2 linked regions of the Homo sapiens genome follow. The protein of the gene in region 2 binds, or shares a complex with, the protein of the main gene of each other region. Each region holds a gene or a part of one and is shown on either strand. Other genes may lie near its edges.

Region 1 (6,904 bases), on a different chromosome or scaffold from region 2:
CCAATGAACTCAAGAACAACAATTACTTAAACTAATTGTCAGTATCACCTACTTCCACCAGCTACATAAAAACCTCAATGATTTTCTAATTTTTTTTTTTGATACAAGGATCTTGCTCTGTTGCCCAGGCTGGAGTGCAGTGGTGTGATCTCTGCTCACTGCAACCTCCACCTCCTGGGTTCAAGTGATTGTCCTGCCTCAGCCTCCCGAGTAGCTGAGATTACAGGCATCCACCACCACACCTGGCTAATTTTTGTAGTTTTAGTAGAGACGAAGTTTCACCATGTTGGCCAGGCTGGTCTCCAAATCCTGACCTCAGGTGATCTGCAGGCATTGGCCTCCTAAAGTGCTGGGATTACAGGCGTGAGCCACCGTGCCCGGCTCTAACTTCTTGAAAAATGTGATGCCTAGCATGTAACCTTTTTCCTAAAGAAACTTGATTATATTGAAGGAAAACTACAGTTATGGGCGAACTCATTTCCCAACCACTTGGGCTTTTGGGAACTTCCTTCAGCTACTTCCTGTTTCATTCTTGGATGCTCATGTTGTGTCTCTAACTTCTCCACCATGTCCAGGAAAATTTGTTTGGGATACTGTTTAACACATTCACCAACCTCAGACAGTGACTGGCAACAGGTGTGTCTGATAAAGAAAACATTGTTTCTGCTCTGCTGTAGGCATGTCTGACAAGTTGGGGACCTGCTTTCCTTTGCAAAGCTTATAGGAGTCTATTTGGGAGGGAGGAACCGCCTTCCAGTTTCCAGGCTGAAAAAGATTCTGTTTCGCTACCAGCAGAGCCAGGCTTGGAAGGGAATGCTAATATGTTTCCAGACCTATCCACCTAAGCTGAATGACAAATGGGTATCAGTGGTTTAATGTAAGAGGAGATAGCTATAGTTTCCTGGGCAAGAGACATCTGTGATTGCCTGGAAACAAACACAGCCCATCGGTGATTCAATAGATGGGTTTGGTCTTGTGAACTGGTCTATTGTAAAATAACTATATTGACATGAAGACACTTGGAAATCATCTGTTCAGTCTTAACTAGTTTAGCCAACTTTGACAGCATTATCTGAGAGGCTGAGGCACAAGAATCGCTTGAACCCAGGAGATGGAGGTTGCAGTGAGCCGAGATTACAAAATAAATAAATAAATAAATATCAATTTAATATAAATTCATAGCAAAACCCCCAAATAAAGATACTCTCATCAGTGCCTGTTTTATTTATTCATTTATTTTTATGTTTTTAGAGATGGAGTGTCCCTCTGTCACCCAGATGGGAGTGCAGGGGCACAATCATAGCTCACTATGGCCTCAAATTCCCAGGTTCAAGCAATCCTCTCATTTTGGCCTCCTGATTAGATGAGATTACAGGCGCACACCACCCTGCCGGGCTAATTTTTAAACTTTTTATAGGGACGGGGTCTTGCTATGTTCTTAGGTTGGTCTGGAACTTCTGGGCCTCAAGCGATCCTCTTGCCTTGGCCTCCCAAAGTGCTGGGATTACAGGTGTGAGCCACCGTGCCTGGCCAGTGCCTGTTTTATTCATAAGAGGAAAGTAATTTACATCACTGGTACCTTAACTACGGGCCAGATGCAGGACCAGAGCGTTATGTTCCATTGCAATAGATGGAATTACCATTTGATGTGATTTGAGGGGACCAGGAAGGCTCCCTATCCAGATGTGGCCTGAAAATATTTGTCACCGTTACTGAAATCCCATCAATTGGAGGATTATTTGGATAGGCTTTACAGTTTACAAAATGCTTTTCTATGGATAAACTGTCAAGGAAGCAGAGTCAACTCCCTGTTCAGAAAAGGTGCTTAGTTACCCCCACAGTGGAGCTATTTTCTTTCAAATGGAAGGTACATTTTTTTGAGAGGGGGAGTAAATTAAATTTATAATGGTGATGTTTATGTCCCACCCATAGCTACCACCCAGAATTAACCAAATCAGATTGAGCCCCGCCCAAATCTAGGTAGGAATTCTCAGAGATGGAATTAACCCGATTAAATTTGTTTTGTATAAAAGGGAAGTGGGGAAAGTAAGAAGTAACTTGGACTCTTCTAGAGGAGAGCAGGCACAAACTAAGCCAAGAAAAGCACGTTTGAGAATTCCAGAGGCAGAAGTTGCTTCTGGGTGCCTGACGTCAACGATCCAGCACTTCAAGACTGGTGTGCGGCATCCTCAGGGGACACTGTGTCCTGGGCACCCCTGCAGTTTAAGAGAATCCACTAGTTTATAAGGTAAGTCCTCGACTGTCAGCAGTGGGCCAGAGACAGACTGTTATTTTCAGATGGACAAATGCTGTTGGGTAGAGGAAGGGATGCGGGATAAGGAGGACAAAATCTGACTTTGGCAAAGCCGGGTGTTTAGAACTTTAATCGCCACGTTGGCAAGTTCTCTCTTAGTCCGTATCCATTTCACTGCTTGCAGAGCGGCCCAGGGGTTCTGGGGGCGAGAAACACATCTCACCCCAGAGCTGCTCCTCGCCCAGGACAGAACTCCTCTGCCCTTCACGACCAGGTCAAGGCCACATGGCTATGCCAAGCACATAGTCTGTAAAAATGGAAAATTTACCTCTAAACTGAAGTGAACCGAACTCTATTGACCTTCCCGTGTACTGAGGAGCTATAACTTCTCCCCAAAAATGTGAAAGTAAAATTGCAGTTTAAATCATGTAATTAGGAATACTGTAAACTAGTGTTTTGCACATATAAACTTTATCATACACTGGGAATTTGTACATACGTGCCCGGTATGGGATTTTTCTATTTTTATTTTTATTTTTTTGAGACAGAGTCTCGCTCTGTTGTCCAGGCTGGAGTGCAATGGCCTGATCTCTGCCTCACTGCAACCTCTGCCTCCCGGGTTCAAGCGATTCTCCTGCCTCAGCCTCCGAGTAGCTGGGACTACAGGCGTGCACCACCACGCCCGGCTAATTTTTGTATTTTTAGTAGAGATAGGGTTTCACCATGTTGGCCAGGCTACTCTCGAACTCCTGACCTCAGGTAATCCATCGGCCTCGGCCTCCCTAAGTGCTGGGATTACAGGCGTGAGCCACCGCGTCCGGACGGAATACCATTTTAATAGATCTTACATGGAATTCCAGTTAGGGCTTGTAAATGTCTCAGATGCTTGCTTCTGCTCATAGCACCCATCAAAGAATTGCAAGTGATGTTTTCCTTTTATTATTTCAAGAAGTGGAATGCAGAGTCCCTAATTAGGGACTTTCCAGATGAGCATGGACACAGGAAAACGCGTGCTTCCCCATTACCCACTTTTCAGCTGAAACAAGCTTTTGAAGCTCGTCCCGCTGTTGCTGAGGAGCGGCTCAACCTCGGGAGAGGCTGGGACTCTCTTTAGGGGTGGGGTCCCGGTCGGCGGGCAGGGCAGCCGCTTTTTCTTTGGGACTGAGTGGAGTTGGGAAGGATCCGTGGAGGCGCTGGGCTAAATCAGCAGACAAAACAAGGGGGAGGGCACAAGGCCGCGGCGGCGGCCAGCCTGGGGCTCGCATCCCGCTGGGCGACCCCTCCGGCCGGAGCCGGGGGGGTCACGCGGCCCCGGAACAAAGCGCCGCGGGAGGAGCTGCCCTGAGCCGACGGGCAAGCGCTAGCTTCTCGCGGGCCAGAGCGCCACGTGCCAGGATCCGTTGAATGCGCGGTGCACGGGCGCAGCAACGGTAGCCGAGTAGCCCCCGCACCTACTGCCGCCTTTGGAGACCCGCACAGCTACGCCCGCGGAGGCCGCCGCCGGCCGCGCCAACGCCTGTGCGCCTGCGCGCCCGCGAAAGCCCCGCCCCCCCAGGCTCCCAGCGCGCGGGGCCGCGCCTCCTCATGGCCGCCGCCGCAGTGTGTGGTATTTAGCGGGGGCGCGCGGCGGGCTCGAGGACGCGCGAAACGGCGGCGGCGGCGGCGGCCAGGGGGGAGCCGGGGCGGCCGTTGCGGGGCGCGCTCTCGAGAGGCGGCGGCGGCCCAGGGTGTCCCGTCGGTCTCGGCGCCGGGAAGAGGCGGTGGCGCTGCCCGCGGTGGCGGGGGTTGGCGACGGAGCGCGTTGGTGCCAGGACCGGGGTCCGAGGCGCGCTCTCCGCCCACAGGTAAGTGGGGCCCGGCCTGAGGGAGGAGCCGGCGGCGAGGGGCTCTCCGACAGGCGGGCGCCCAGGCCCGGTAATGGCGGAGGGCGGGAAGGGCGGCCCGGCCGGGGCGCGGGCAGTAGTCGGCGCGGCGGCGCCTTTGTCTCGGCCGGAGTCGGGCCGCCCGGTCGAGCGCCGCCCCCCGCCCCTCCCCTGCCTTCAGCCTTCGCAAGCCGGCTCGCCCCCGCCCCTGGAGCCCCGGGCCCGGCGGGGTGGCGGCGGGGGTCGGCCCCGCGCGGCCGGGCCGAGGGCGGGGGAAGGGCCTCGGCGGCGGCCCGGCCCCCGCGCGCCCGGGAGGCGGGCCCGGCCGGGGGTGGCGCCCGGCGCGCCCCGCGCCCTCGTGCCGGCCTTTGTTGTGGAGGGTCCCGGGGTGTGCGGCCAACATGGCGGAGGTCAGCTGAGTGCGGGCAGCTGCCGGGGCCCTGCCCTCCCTCCCCCTCCTCCCCGCGGCGCCCGGAGGCCCGGGCCGCACCGCGCCGCTCGGCGGGCCTCGGCCTCCGCTCTCTGCCCCCGACCCCCGGCTGGAGCCGTCCGGGACGGGGCTGCGCTCTTCCTGCCGCTTCGGCCGGAGGCTTCATTGTGCAGTGGGAAGAATGCAGCCTCCTCCCTTGTTTATGTCGTTAGAGAGGAGAGCGCGTGAACGGCGTGCCGGGGAAGCTCTAGCTTATTATAAACCTGGCATTTCCTAGGGTTCATTTGCCGGGTAGTTTGGGGTCCTTTCTTAACTCTCCCAAATTTATAACTTAAAGTGAATAACCTGGGCCACTCCGATGCGTAGGTTCGTTTTCGCTGTCTGCCCGTTCCTGGAAAGATACATAATTTGTTTGCTCGGACATTCAGAAAAGTCCAGCTTGGGTGTTCGGAAAATCAGATTGTGTGTACTTCTTTTGCCAAAGTCATAGAGGCCATAAACAAACAGAGAGACATGGATACTGGATATGGGACGGTGTTCTGACTGTCCCTTCCTAGCAGTTGAGCATTTACCTTTGCTTATAGCGGCTGTCAAGGGTAAATTGTTAACTCTTCAGCAGTTGGATGTTGAGAGCACGGGCTGTGAAGTCCGACTGTCTGCTTTGGGTCAAATCCTGCTCCACTGGTTTGTGACCTTGGGCAGATACTTCTCTGTGCTTCGCTTTCCTTATCTGCAAAATGGGTGTAACGACAGTATCTACCTCAAGCCCTGTTGAGAATTGATGAGATGACAATAGGTGGACTGAAAGCAGTGGCAGCCCCATACTAAGTTCTCAACAAATGCTTACTGTTAAGACTGTAGTTTAATAGCTAAACTTACGAGGTTTTCTTGGCATGATGTGTTGGTATGATGAAAGTGCATAGACCAGAATTTGTGAAATCAGGTCACAGATCTTTAGTGCTGGGTTTTTTCTTTCAATGCATTTTGTTGTTAAAAAGGACAAGGAGATTTGTATGATAAATTAACAGACTTTCTGAGATGGTGGCATTTTGGAAATTGCTGTGGCCGGGGATTTGAATGGCTATATCTTTGTGATTAAAAAAAATCAAATTGATTAAAATGAGGTCTTCTCTTAGCTAGTTTAGATTTATTGATCAGTTCACTTTCAAGGACTTGAGTTAACCAACTTAGAAAAGTGGGACAGTGAATACTTGAGTGTGTATCTATGGTGTTACCATCACTTTTAGAAGTTACTGAAGAGCAGAATGTAGTGTGGTGGCAAATGTAATGGTCTGGTAATTTTATCTGGGAGTTGTTGGCTCAAATTATGGTGGAGAGGATTTTAATTAGTTGTTAGGAGGACTTTAGACTGGTAGATCTTGAGACTCAAAGTAGATTACACAAATTGGTTGTGTAGTGTTTCATTCTGAAAATTTAAATAAAGATACAGATTTCTGTAATCTTGGATGGTTAGTTGCGATTATATCCAGAATTTGTTCCCCAAAGTTTATGCCAAACAGTTTTTTTTTCGTTATTGGCATCTTTCCAACATAATTTACTAACATTTAATATTTTAAACTGAAATACGTATAATAGATGTGAAACTGATAACTTTTCAGGATAAGTATTCCACAAAGTACAAATTCAGAAACAATGTTAATGCATTTTACATCTGTTAAATATTAATCTATTCCCTCTAAGCTTCGGGAAGTTCTTACGAAATTGCTGTAGAGAAATATTCTTTCTTAATATCTGTAATTAAAAAGCATGATTAGGTTAAATTGGAGTTATGAAGGAATTATCTAGCTATGTCAGTAATGACATAAAATAACAAATAGGATTTTCAGTGAGTATGGTGTTTTGAAAACAGATCTTACATAACTAGGGTAACAAAGTTTAGTAATTTACAGAGTTTTAGGTGACTGCTTAAATTGTATTTTTAAGCAGTTGATTTACAAAATTTTTAAAGATTGGAGGTTCTTTGTTTAAAGAGATTTATTAACAGAATTTTGTGGAATTTCCATATTCGCTTTGTGAAATGTTAAAATCTAGATATTTTTTGTACAGCCCTCTCTTTCAACAAAATCTGTATGAAATCCCCAGAACCTTCCATCCCCCCGCCAAAAAAGGAAATTTTCCTTTTTACAATAAGTATCCTTAATAGTATTCTTCAAAATAGCAGGATGTCTAATGCACTTTAAATGATTTAGTTCCCATGGCTATAGTTACTAGAATATCTGCTGCATAAGGGCAAGAATTGTGTTTTTAATATATATCCTCAGTACCTAGTGCTCAGTAGGTATTTGTTTACTCACCTACTACTGTGCGTATTCTAATGACATTCAGATCTTTATTTTT
Region 2 (7,333 bases):
GGCTGCCATATGGGGGCCAGTGCCGGCCCTGTCCCTGTCCTGAAGGCCCTGGGAGCCAACGGCACTTTGCTACTTCTTGCCACCAGGATGAATATTCCCAGCAGATTGTGTGCCACTGCCGGGCAGGCTATACGGGTGAGTGGATGGGGGCAGGCGTGGGATCAGGGTGAGTTGGCTGGGCTGAGCACTCACAGCTTCCTCTTAACCGTGGGCAGGGCTGCGATGTGAAGCTTGTGCCCCTGGGCACTTTGGGGACCCATCAAGGCCAGGTGGCCGGTGCCAACTGTGTGAGTGCAGTGGGAACATTGACCCAATGGATCCTGATGCCTGTGACCCCCACACGGGGCAATGCCTGCGCTGTTTACACCACACAGAGGGTCCACACTGTGCCCACTGCAAGCCTGGCTTCCATGGGCAGGCTGCCCGACAGAGCTGTCACCGTGAGTATGAGTGTGGGAGGGCATGGCTGAATTGGGGTTCTGCTTCTTGGCCTCCTCTTGACTACTGTGCTCATCTTGGTTGGCACAGGCTGCACATGCAACCTGCTGGGCACAAATCCGCAGCAGTGCCCATCTCCTGACCAGTGCCACTGTGATCCAAGCAGTGGGCAGTGCCCATGCCTCCCCAATGTCCAGGGCCCTAGCTGTGACCGCTGTGCCCCCAACTTCTGGAACCTCACCAGTGGCCATGGTTGCCAGCCTTGTGCCTGCCACCCAAGCCGGGCCAGAGGCCCCACCTGCAACGAGGTATGGGACCCTCCTGCAGATCCCTGGTTAGATGGGGCCAGGTGTCTGTCTTATCTCCAGGGCTTAGCCTCTTATAGAGGCTCTGACCCTGCCTTGTTCCCACCCCAGTTCACAGGGCAGTGCCACTGCCGTGCCGGCTTTGGAGGGCGGACTTGTTCTGAGTGCCAAGAGCTCCACTGGGGAGACCCTGGGTTGCAGTGCCATGGTGAGGGAGCCAGCGGGGCCAGGGTAGATGGAGGACTTCCCAGAATGCCCCACAGTGACCCTAACTCTGTGCTCTGCTCTTTCTTGCAGCCTGTGATTGTGACTCTCGTGGAATAGATACACCTCAGTGTCACCGCTTCACAGGTCACTGCAGCTGCCGCCCAGGGGTGTCTGGTGTGCGCTGTGACCAGTGTGCCCGTGGCTTCTCAGGAATCTTTCCTGCCTGCCATCCCTGCCATGCATGCTTCGGGGATTGGGACCGAGTGGTGCAGGACTTGGCAGCCCGTACACAGCGCCTAGAGCAGCGGGCGCAGGAGTTGCAACAGACGGGTGTGCTGGGTGCCTTTGAGAGCAGCTTCTGGCACATGCAGGAGAAGCTGGGCATTGTGCAGGGCATCGTAGGTGCCCGCAACACCTCAGCCGCCTCCACTGCACAGCTTGTGGAGGCCACAGAGGAGCTGCGGTGCGGAAGGGCCTAAGAATACATGGTGGGATGGGGCAGAGGCCCAGTGGACCAGGGCTGAAGCCTCTCTAAACACCCCCCTCTCCATCATTGCAGGCGTGAAATTGGGGAGGCCACTGAGCACCTGACTCAGCTCGAGGCAGACCTGACAGATGTGCAAGATGAGAACTTCAATGCCAACCATGCACTAAGTGGTCTGGAGCGAGATAGGCTTGCACTTAATCTCACACTGCGGCAGCTCGACCAGCATCTTGACTTGCTCAAACATTCAAACTTCCTGGGTGAGTTGTTAGCCAACTAGGCAGGTGGACCAGGGTCAGTCTTCAGCTGACTGTCTGCCTCTGCCCAATTTAGGTGCCTATGACAGCATCCGGCATGCCCATAGCCAGTCTGCAGAGGCAGAACGTCGTGCCAATACCTCAGCCCTGGCAGTACCTAGCCCTGTGAGCAACTCGGCAAGTGCTCGGCATCGGACAGAGGCACTGATGGATGCTCAGAAGGAGGACTTCAACAGCAAACACATGGCCAACCAGCGGGCACTTGGCAAGCTCTCTGCCCATACCCACACCCTGAGCCTGACAGACATAAATGAGCTGGTGAGGTTGAAGTGTTGGGTGGGGCAGGTGGGTGTAGATGTTCCTCTCACAGGGCCCTGACTTGTTCTGTGCCTGGCAGGTGTGTGGGGCACCAGGGGATGCACCCTGTGCTACAAGCCCTTGTGGGGGTGCCGGCTGTCGAGATGAGGATGGGCAGCCGCGCTGTGGGGGCCTCAGCTGCAATGGGGCAGCGGCTACAGCAGACCTAGCACTGGGCCGGGCCCGGCACACACAGGCAGAGCTGCAGCGGGCACTGGCAGAAGGTGGTAGCATCCTCAGCAGAGTGGCTGAGACTCGTCGGCAGGCAAGCGAGGCACAGCAGCGGGCCCAGGCAGCCCTGGACAAGGCTAATGCTTCCAGGGGACAGGTGGAACAGGCCAACCAGGAACTTCAAGAACTTATCCAGAGTGTGAAGGACTTCCTCAACCGTGAGCCTCCCACGTGTCCCAGGCCATGTGGTTGTCCCCTTTGGCAACTCCCGGTGTCTGTATCTCCCTTGGTTCATACTTGAGCCTCAGGGACTACACTGGATTAGTGTTTATGATCCCTTGACTGGCTCCTGAGTTATTGCCCATATGTGGTCCCAGGTCCATGTTCTTGAGTCTGAGCCCCTTGTATAGTCCCTGTCCTTGTGATTATATCCTTATGCCTGGTAACAAACCCCTATCCCATGTACATGTCCTGAGTCCATACCCCAAAACTGTATCCTCATGCCCATGCTGGAGAATCTATGTTCTTAAGTTCTTGCTGTGTCCCTATAGAGGAGGGGGCTGATCCTGATAGCATTGAAATGGTGGCCACACGGGTGCTAGAGCTCTCCATCCCAGCTTCAGCTGAGCAGATCCAGCACCTGGCGGGTGCGATTGCAGAGCGAGTCCGGAGCCTGGCAGATGTGGATGCGATCCTGGCACGTACTGTAGGAGATGTGCGTCGTGCCGAGCAGCTACTGCAGGATGCACGGCGGGCAAGGTCTGACCCCATCCCTGGCCCCTATCCCTGACACCTGGTTTTGATACCTCCAGGTTCTGATTCCCCCTTCTCCCCAGGAGCTGGGCTGAGGATGAGAAACAGAAGGCAGAGACAGTACAGGCAGCACTGGAGGAGGCCCAGCGGGCACAGGGTATTGCCCAGGGTGCCATCCGGGGGGCAGTGGCTGACACACGGGACACAGAGCAGACCCTGTACCAGGTGAGGTCTTCCTAGGACATCAGTGGGACAAGGTTATGGGCATGAACCGTAGATCTGTGTAACCTTTGGCTCACCCATGGCAGGTACAGGAGAGGATGGCAGGTGCAGAGCGGGCACTGAGCTCTGCAGGTGAAAGGGCTCGGCAGTTGGATGCTCTCCTGGAGGCTCTGAAATTGAAACGGGCAGGAAATAGTCTGGCAGCCTCTACAGCAGAAGAAACGGCAGGCAGTGCCCAGGGTCGTGCCCAGGAGGCTGAGCAGGTGGGTTGAGGCAGAGCCAGCTGGAGAAGGTAGGGGTGGAAGATGGGCCTCCACTGAGCTACCACGCTAACCTAACCCTCTACATCTGCAGCTGCTACGCGGTCCTCTGGGTGATCAGTACCAGACGGTGAAGGCCCTAGCTGAGCGCAAGGCCCAAGGTGTGCTGGCTGCACAGGCAAGGGCAGAACAACTGCGGGATGAGGCTCGGGACCTGTTGCAAGCCGCTCAGGACAAGCTGCAGCGGCTACAGGGTAAGAAATGGGGCACCAGAGACACAAGACTGCGGGAAACCCCCCCTAAACTGACACCTGCCCTTCCTAGAATTGGAAGGCACCTATGAGGAAAATGAGCGGGCACTGGAGAGTAAGGCAGCCCAGTTGGACGGGTTGGAGGCCAGGATGCGCAGCGTGCTTCAAGCCATCAACTTGCAGGTGCAGATCTACAACACCTGCCAGTGACCCCTGCCCAAGGCCTACCCCAGTTCCTAGCACTGCCCCACATGCATGTCTGCCTATGCACTGAAGAGCTCTTGGCCCGGCAGGGCCCCCAATAAACCAGTGTGAACCCCCACTGTGTTGTCTGGACTCTGATTTGGGGCGGGCGGGGGAGTCTCCAGGGGAACCTCGAGGTTGCCCCCAGCAGAACCCATGCACCGCTAAGCCACCCGAGCACCGCCTCCTTCCGCTCGGGCCCGCCCCGGAGCTGCGGGTCGCTCCGAGCCCATTCCCGCCGGAAGTGCGTCACCAGCTTGGCGCTCCGCCTCCCTCGGCCTTAGCTAGAAGTCGAAACAAAACAAGCCGCTAAGGCGGTGGCGGCGGCGCCGGGACGGGGGAGGGGCGCGCCGGAACCGGAACCGACCTGCGCCGGAACCGGAACGGAGAGCGGGTTGCCAGGGCCCGAAGAGGGCTGGCTGCGGCGGTCTCGCTCGGTGAGTGGAGCAGGCTGCAACTCGCTGGCTTGGCCGCAGCGGGGAGGCCGCAACGCGCGGCCGCGGCGGCCTGTTCAAGGTCACGGGCCGTGCCAGTCCCTACCCCTAGTGCCCCGCAGCGTGCCAGCCCACTGATGCCGGCAGGGCCGTTACGCTATGCCTGTGGCCAGCCTCCCACCTGGGAGAGGACTGGCGGCCAGCGAGGGCAACTTCGTGGGAGAGGTGGTGGCGGGCTCGGGGTTCAGAGGCTGAAGCTGGGTCGCAGCTCGACCGGGGCGCTGATCTGTGGTCAGTAACCCCGCGCTGCCATTTCAGGCCGGCTCGGGTCTCTAAACAGCCCCTTACCCGCCTCGACGTCCCTGGGGCATGGGGGAGGGACGCGACCTTCGGCTGGGGCCTGGGTGCAAGAAGGAGGCGCCGGTGGCAGGTGTCATTAAAGATCCAGCCCACCAGTACCACATCTGACCTGTAGAAGGGTATCCTGCCATCCCTCCTTCCTCCTTTACACACTTAGGGGAACACAGACTAGTCATTATCTGTCCTGCTACTGGTTCAGGCCAGGCTTGAGGCTGCCAGGAGTCCTGGATCTGTGGTCCTCCCCAGCCTCATCTCAGTATCTAGTTTCAAGACCTTCATTTTGGAGGAGGAAACAGTCCAGAATCCACTGGTGGGTCTGTGGGAAACTGTAGTGGTCCTTGTGGCTCAGAGCTCATGAGTGAAGGCATCTGGGAAGGAAGGTGATAATTTCTGTTCCAGTCTCAAACTGGATGCCCATCCTGCCTTAGTACTGGAGCAGGGTTGCTGCTGAAGAGGTAGCGTGACATCTAGATACACTTTTCAGTCCCTTTCTGCTTGGGACAGCAGCTGGGGAGAGGACTTTCTCTTGAAATGAAGAAGGACCAAGCAGTACATAGGAGCAGGTTCTTGCCAAGGGTGGGAGCTGGCAGGAGGCAGGTGGAGTGCCTTAGCCCCAGGACTTTTTCTGGGCAATGGTAGAACCTGGGTTGAGCCTGTTTACAGCCACAGAGCCTGGTTCTCCTGCGGCTTGTCTCCTGTCCTGCCTTCCTCCTCCACCTTCTATTTCTCCAGTGGTGACTAAGCAGCCAGTGAGAGTGAAGGAAAAGTGAGCACCCTGCTCGGAGTGCCAGCCCTGTGGGCTGGAGCCGTGGCTCCTCTCCAGATTGGTGGAGTAGCCTGGTCCCAGGCCATGACTTCCTTGACCTGGTGCCCCCTCAGTGAGGCTTTCACCTGTGTGGGACTGTTATGGTGGGTATCTATGAGGCTTGGCCAGAAGTGGTTGCTGCTACTTGCATTATTTATTACCTCTTCAGAATATCCTGAGAGTGTCCAGGGGTACTTAAGAGATGAGAAGATACAGCTCTGTAGCATTAGTGTCCTGTGTTGCTGAGCCCTGGGTGTAGCTAAAGAGCAAGTTGTTGGGTCTTGGCAGTGATCACTGGCTTCTTTCCATTAGGCTGTCCGTTCCTTGCTGGAGAATTTGGCCACAAAGAGTTGCCAAGATAGCTGGGCCAGGAAGAAAGCGCCGCAGCCCTGACCCAGACGCTGTTGCCGACCCCGGGGCACTCTGGCTGTCGACCAAGCGGCTCAAGATGTCTGGCGGGGCCAGTGCCACAGGCCCAAGGAGAGGGCCCCCAGGACTGGAGGACACCACTAGTAAGAAGAAGCAGAAGGATCGAGCAAACCAGGAGAGCAAGGATGGAGATCCTAGGAAAGGTGGGAGTGGCATTCCCAGAGTAATTGTGGCCTTCTCTGCCTCCCATCTTATTGGTATACAGATTGGGGTTTGGGAGATGACTTTCTTGTTCTTCTCTCTGTCCTGGTTTGATGATGAGAGAAGAAGGACCCATGATAACCTCAGTAGAGCCTCAGCTTTGAAGCCTGAGTACTTGGCTAAGATCCAGAAGATGGTGCTGTTGGGGGGCTTGCCTTCTTTCCTTTTTAAACTTTTTTCTTTTTTTTGAACCTGTTCTTTTTTTCCTTTTTTTTTTGAGATGGAGTCTCATTCTGTAGCCCAGGCTGGAGTGCAGTGGTGCAATATTGGCTCACTGCAACGTCCACCTCCTGGTTCAGGTGATTGTCCTGCCTCAGCCTCCCAAGTAGCTGGGATTACAGGTGCATGCCACCACGCAAGGCTAATTTTTTTTTTTTTTTTGAGACAATGTCTCACTCTGTCATCCAGGCTAGAGTGTAGTGGCGTCTTGGCTCACTGCGGGCTCTGCCTCCCGGGTTCAAGTGATTCTGCTGCCTCAGCCTCCCAAGTAGCCTCAGCCTCCCAAGTAGCTGGGATTACAGGTATGCACCACCACACTCAGCTAATTTTTGTATTTTTAGTAGAGACGGGGTTTCACCATGTTGGCCAGACTGGTCACAAACTCCTGACCTCAGGTGATCCACCCACCTCGGCCTCTCAAAGTGCTGGGATTGCAGGCGTGAACCACCGTGCCTGTCCCTTTTTTTTTTTTTTTTTTAAAGGCAGGGTCTCACTCTTGCACAGATTGGAGTGCAGTGCAGGTGTGATCGTAGCTTACTGCATCCTCAAAGTCCTGGGCTCAAGCAGTCCTCCTACCTCAGCCTCCTCACCATGCTTGACTAATTTTTCTTATTTTTTTTTTAGAGACAGGGTCTCGATATGTTGCCCAGGCTGGTCTTGAACCTCTGGCCTCAGGTGATCCTTCTGCCTCAGCCTCCCATGCAGCTGGGATCACAGGCTCACGCCACCGTACCCGGCTGTTCTTTCCTTCATCGTCAGGGTCAGCATCCACTCCTCAAGAGGAGCAGACCAAAGAGGGTCAGTAACGAATGGGCTTTTTGTTGCTAGGGAAGGGGAGGGGGCACTTGCAATTTGGCTCCCATCTGAAGCAGTTTCATTAGGCTGGGTCTCTGTTACCTGCTTATCACCATCAGGAGCTTGTGAAGACCCTCATGAT

What was found. The genes of interacting proteins can lie anywhere in the genome.
Region 1: the proteins of USP19 (region 2) and SIAH1 are in contact, whole or in part, in a crystal structure (PDB 4X3G), measured with the Homo sapiens proteins. Residues at the interface, in NP_006668.1 of Homo sapiens: Lys463, Pro464, Thr465, Cys466, Met467, Val468, Pro469, Pro470, Met471; in NP_003022.3 of Homo sapiens: Cys130, Pro131, Thr156, Leu158, Gln159, Asp162, Ile163, Val164, Phe165, Leu166, Ala167, Thr168, Leu172, Val176, Asp177, Trp178, Val179, Met180, Asn276.

The regions. Positions count from the first base shown.
Region 1 is NC_000016.10:48,382,398-48,389,301, reverse strand, and holds the start of SIAH1 (E3 ubiquitin-protein ligase SIAH1), read left to right. Parts: upstream 1-3,888; 5' UTR 3,889-4,098; intron 4,099-4,432; exon of another isoform or gene 4,433-4,526; intron 4,527-6,904. UniProt on the Homo sapiens protein: E3 ubiquitin-protein ligase that mediates ubiquitination and subsequent proteasomal degradation of target proteins.
Region 2 is NC_000003.12:49,117,808-49,125,140, reverse strand, and holds the start of USP19 (ubiquitin carboxyl-terminal hydrolase 19), read left to right. Parts: upstream 1-4,317; 5' UTR 4,318-4,385; exon of another isoform or gene 4,386-4,673; intron 4,674-5,859; 5' UTR 5,860-5,995; coding exon 5,996-6,119; intron 6,120-7,020; coding exon 7,021-7,194; intron 7,195-7,310; coding exon 7,311-7,333. Other genes in the region: LAMB2 (laminin subunit beta-2 precursor), read left to right, coding at 1-135, 216-440, 529-746, 855-951, 1,041-1,413, 1,510-1,694, 1,768-2,009, 2,089-2,437 and 5 more. UniProt on the Homo sapiens protein: Deubiquitinating enzyme that regulates the degradation of various proteins by removing ubiquitin moieties, thereby preventing their proteasomal degradation. Stabilizes RNF123, which promotes CDKN1B degradation and contributes to cell proliferation.